Linked DNA regions of Homo sapiens: region 1 is linked to region 2. The links come from fine-mapping of genetic effects on gene expression. Tissue or cell type: whole blood. Region 2 holds a variant in brackets; the other region holds the start of a gene. All regions are shown on one strand. Distances are between the middles of the regions.

Region 1 (2,500 bases), 460 kb before region 2:
GGTCTAGAATTCCTCTCCATAGAAGATAACCTACTTCTCGCGCAAATCTGCAGTGTTCTTGCAGGGCTGCTGATGGGTGGTCCTGTTCTTTTCGCGGTCCTGTTTGCGCAGAGATGAAACGGGGAACTTAGCGTATCCCTACCGCTCTTTTTGATGACAGGAGTAAAGGGCTGTTCAGACTACCTAAACAATGTTGTTAAGAGAAGCACTCGTACTTCTCAGACTTCGCTGTTCCGGACCCCGCGAGCCAGGGGCAGGCACCGGGTCCACCCGGGGCTGAGCTGCGGCGGCGCCTGACAATGCCCCCTCGCGCCCCGGCCTCGGCGCCCGCTCCCGGCTCCAGCGCGCCTGCACGTACGTAGCCTTCACGTGTGTGTGGATACGGAGTGCATGTGTGGAGACAGAGGAATATGCTCCAACAAATTTCGGATAGAGGCGCCGAAGACAGGACGTGGGGAAGGTAGGAGCCGCGTGCACGGCTCCGGCCCCGGGCGGGAGGCGGCCGCGAGCCGGGCCGGCCGCGCGCAAGTCCGGCGCCAGCCGCTAGAGCCCCCAGTGCGCGGCCCGGCCGCGGGGCGCCTCGACCCGACACAATAAACTCCGAGGGCGGGCGGGCCGAGGGGCCGGTGGGGCCGAGCGGCCGCCCCGCGCGCATCGCCATGTGAGCGGCTGCCGCGGCTTCGCGGGGACCCAACTTTCCCGGGCGGCGGCGCCCAACTTCCCGCCGCCCGCTCCGGCCCCGCAGGCCCGCGGCGCCAGGGGAAGACGCGAGTAAGTGCGGGCGGCGGTGCCCTCCCGGCCCTCACCCCGCACGCGGCGACCCGGCCGCCTAGCCTCCCTCGCTCAGGCGCGACCGCGGCGTTCTCTGAGGTGGAGTATTACAAACATGGCGCCCCTCGAGCCCGGAGCCCTTCGCGCGGAGCCGGCGGCGGGGTCCGGGCGGGGGGGAGCCGGGGAGGAGGGAGGAGGCCGGCAGGGAGGAGGAGGAGGCGGCCTGAGCGTCCCCCCCGCCCCCCGCGCCCGTCGCCGGCTCAGGCCCGAGAGGCGCCGGGCGGCGGGAAGGAGGCGGCACCGGAGGGGAGGGCCGGGCGCGGCGGCGGCGGCGGTGGAGGAGCCGGAGCATAATGGTGGGGAAAGCTCGGCGGCGGGGCGGCGGGGCGGGCGGGGGCGTCCGTGGAGATGGCGCGGCCCGCGCGGTGGAGCCTGCCTGGCCGCGGCCTCTGGGGCGGCGGCGGCACCAGTGGGTGCTGACGGTCGCTCGCCCGCTCGCGAAGAGCTCCGAGCTGCCGGGGAGCTTTGTGGATGGCGGGGCGGGCCGGGCCGGCGGGGCCTGCGAGGGCGGCGGCGGGGCCTGCGGAGGCTGCCGGCCCGCGCCCACTCGCCTTGGGCGGCCGCGGAAGAGGCCCCGGGATGAGGCCCCGGAGGACCGCGCGGGGCCTGCTCGGGCCGGGAAGCCGCGGAGTCGCGTGAGCACCGCCCGCCGGGCCCTGTGCCCCGCTTTCGGTCAGGCCTCCTGGGCCCGTGCGCAGTCCGGGCCGGCGGGGAACGCGGCTCCGGGCGTGTGGCGGGCGGAGAGGAAGCGTTTGTCGGCGCGGCACGTCGTGTGCTAGCCCGGGAGCGGCGGGCAGGGCTGGCCCCGAGGCCCGGGGCGGAGATTCGTCGGTCCCCCGGGGCTGTGAGCGACCCCGGCAGCGAGGCCGCCGCCTCAACAGGTCCTCGCGGACCTCCGGGACAGTCCTGTGGGGTCCGCCGCCCTCCTCCCACCCAGAGCTCCGGGGAGAAGCTGCTGAGGACGCGGCTGGGACGAGGGGGGGCGCCGGGACCCGGACTTTCACTTGCAGTCTCTCCTCGCGCTTTTCTCCCGAGCCGGGAGGAGGAGGAGCTGGCGATGTGTGCGCCGTGCCCGGTGTCTTTTGCAGAGTGACCGCCGTACCTGTTTTATTCGTGTGTACCAGTGCTCGTTGTGCAGTGCGGTGTCCTATGCGGTGGGTACGCAGTACCGGGGATTATATATGGTGTGTACTCTGTGTCATATGCAGTGTGCTCGAAGTACCCGGTGTCGTACCGGCTATCATACACGGTGTGTACATGTATCTTCCTCGCTTAGGCTGTGCACTCAGCCCCCGGTATTGTGTGCAGTAGGTGCCTGGTACCCTGCTGCCATATGAGCTGTGCGTGTGGTACTCCATGTTATATACGAGTGTATGTAGTATCTGGATAGTATTGAATATATTTACCTTACCTGTTGTCACATACAGTGTGTATGTAGTACCTGGTGTCATATATGCGGTGTGTATAGTACCAGGTGTCATATACTGTGTGCACACAGTACTTGGGGTCATATATGGTGTGTACATAGTATCCTTTCACACTGTGTATGCAGCACCCAGTGTCATATACAGCCCTTACGCGGTTCCCGGTATTTTGTGCAGTATGTGCACGGTACCGTGCTGCCATATGCGGTGTGTATGCAGTATTCAATGTCATATACGTTAGGTAT
Region 2 (2,756 bases):
TCACCACCACTGCCCAGGACAAAGACACCCAGAACCACACAATGAGCTTTCAAGCTCACCAAGGCGATGACTGAGCAATGCGCATAGTGACGCGAACATGCAGACATGAGGGCCACACGTGGCATTGGTTTTGTGTATCGACCTGAGTGGGCCCCGGGGTGCCCAGGTGGCTGGTTCTGCATTATTTCTGTGTGAGATGTGTGTTTGCCTCTGGACTGAGTGGAGACTAAGTGGAGACCCATCCTCGCCAGTGTAGGGGGCACCACCCTGTCCACCCAGGGCTCCAGGGCTCGAGTAAAACAGCAAGGCGGGGAAGGCTGGGCTCGCTCCACCTGTCTGGCTGCAGGCCAGTGGCATCCGTCTTCTGCCCCCGGTGCTCCTGGGTCTCAGCTCCTCAGACCTGGGTGGGATCTGCACCCTCCGCTTCTCAAGCCTTTGAGCCACACCCTCCCAGGCCTCCAGGTTGCAGGCAGTGGGTCCTGGGGCTTCTTGGCCTCCGTAGCCCCTGCAGCAAGCCTCCCCCTGGACACACACACACCGGGCTGGCTCTGTCTCTCTGGAGAGCCCTGACTAAGCTGCCCCTAGAAGTGGTCTTCAGAGTTTCCTTCTAGCCCCAATATCCCAGTGCCCCCCTACAATTCTAGGTGGAAAGGTGAATGGAGACCTGGTGAATGGAGACCAATGGACAGAGGTGTGTGCCGAGGACACGCTGGGCAGCAGGGCTGGGCAGGAGTGCACTAACGCTGTCACTATGCAAAGAATCAATGTCACTTGCCACAAAAATGAGAACAGTAAAGATTCCTTCAAACAGAAATGAGTTTGTTTCATGATTTGCTCTTAATACGTAAGAAATCATAAAAGTAGGCCTACTAACAATTACGTAAGTCTTCAGAGGCTCCTGAACTACTTCTGTCCCTTCATGTTTTTATACAAAATAAGCTTGAGGTTAAAGAGAATAACGTCACTGGCCACAGCTGGGGCCACACGAGGACACAGCTTACACCCATGAGGTCCTAGGGGTCCTGAGTCCTTTCCTGGCTATTTATGGAAATACGGGAGAAACCAGGAGGTCTGAACGTGGACCTGGCCATGCCCCCAGGGGCCAAGGAAAGCACCCATCTGTCCACTCTTCCCTCTACCCCACGGTTCCCTACCTGGACTCTGGGGCTGACGTGGCTTCATGCACTCAGCAGCGCCATCATTAAACGTTTAGGAGGGCCTCCTCTAACCACCGCTGGACCTGCAGAGTCAGCACAAGTCTGCAGGACACGCGTGGACAAGGCTGATGGATCACGGCCTCCCACGAGGAAAGTGCCAGGCAAAGAGTCGGAGACACCAGGGATGGAGCAGCACTCACTGGGGGAGGCCAAGGCCGGCACCGGCCACCACCAAGGGCCACGAGGGCCTCCCTCCCCACCCCAAGGGCAGCTCACCCAGGAAGGTGAAAGCCGGCACCGGCCACCAAGGGCCTCTCTTCCCACCCCGAGGGCAGCTGCGATCACATTTCCCATCGCACCAAGAGACCCCTGCATTGAGCACAAACCTTTCCAACCTTCAAATCAATGAAGAATCACAACATGGACATTCCCTCAATCCATATGGCCAGCCCACAAAACC[G/A]ACATGCAATCATCACATGCATTTCCTGTGGGAAAGTCAGTCTCAGTCCGAGGCCTCGCGACAGGGGTAGGGGAGCATCATGGGGAGAGGCCCCAGCCTGGCTCCTCCCCCCACAGCTCCTCTTCCCTCTGCTCCTCACGCCACCCCTCCCCACCCCCTCCTAGCTTCAGAGGCTGCTTCCTCAAATTCTTTCCCCTTGATGAAGTCATTCATTCCCCAAATACAAAGCAATTAAAGGCATGAGAGCTCAAGAGAAAATCCACACCGTGGCTTGTGTTTTAGATTCTCTTAAGTTTGAGAATAACCAAGCAAGAATCTTTGGCATCTGAATGTGGTCTGAAGGCATCTGAGCAGAAGGCCTGGCCCCAGCCCGGAGTGGGTCATGGGTGTCTCCGACATCTTTGTAACTCTGCATCAATTATTTTGAAACATCACTAGCAGAATAGAGCCATGTGAATAGTTACTTTTCTGTTAAAAGTAGAAAAGACTGCCTCAAGGAACATCCTTCCAACAACGACTTTCTGCATCGAGCCTTTGAGGCACAGGCACGGCCCCCGGGCCCACCTCCCTCATCCTTGCATCATAAAGCGGCGAAGACCGTGTGGAATAAAGTAAGTGAAGGAGTCAGTCCCTCACAAAACAGGCTCCAGAAGCCACAGCCACTCTCCCAGCGTGGGAGCCAAGTTAGAGACCCAGAAACCCCAGCGTTCCCAGGGAGGAGGGCAGAATAATGCCATTTCCCCCTAGTTTAGGGAGACAGCACCCCACATCCTCTGGTCTCAACAGAATGGTTAGAATGAATCCACCACACACAGAAAGTGGGCTAAGGGCTTACTAAGACACCCATTTAAATACCCGGCAAAAACACGTTACAGGAACACACAGGTAAGTGAGTTTCTCCTATTATCCATGAAATATTTAGAAACAAATCCAGCAAGCAATCTCTTTGCAATCAAAAGACCAATTCAGAGTTGCAGATTAAACATCAAGATACAACTGAACCCTTACTAGACCAAGAACAAACCAAGTTCCATGGAAGTATAATCATGTCACCACTTCCCAGTCGAAGGAAGCAGCAGTGGTCATCTGACCAGCTGTTCACTCGTGGGTCAGTGAACGAAAGGCAGTGCTGTTCAGGA

Evidence for each region. PIP is the estimated chance that this variant, and not a neighbour inherited with it, causes the effect.
Region 1: ZMYND11 starts here. The variant in region 2 is fine-mapped to the expression of ZMYND11 in whole blood (TOPMed, PIP 0.98).

Annotation. Positions count from the first base shown.
Region 1 is chr10:134,433-136,932 of GRCh38, forward strand. It overlaps ZMYND11 (zinc finger MYND-type containing 11), which reads left to right and starts at 1,023. Exons shown (of 15, transcript NM_001370100.5): 1 at 1,023-1,127. RefSeq lists silencers at 265-1,824, 272-450.
Region 2 is chr10:596,822-599,577 of GRCh38, forward strand. All of the region lies in intron 1 of DIP2C (disco interacting protein 2 homolog C), which reads right to left. Among named protein-coding and RNA genes, the nearest start is that of DIP2C-AS2, 30 kb to the right of the region's middle. The variant G/A (reference allele first, on the strand shown) is at 1,618.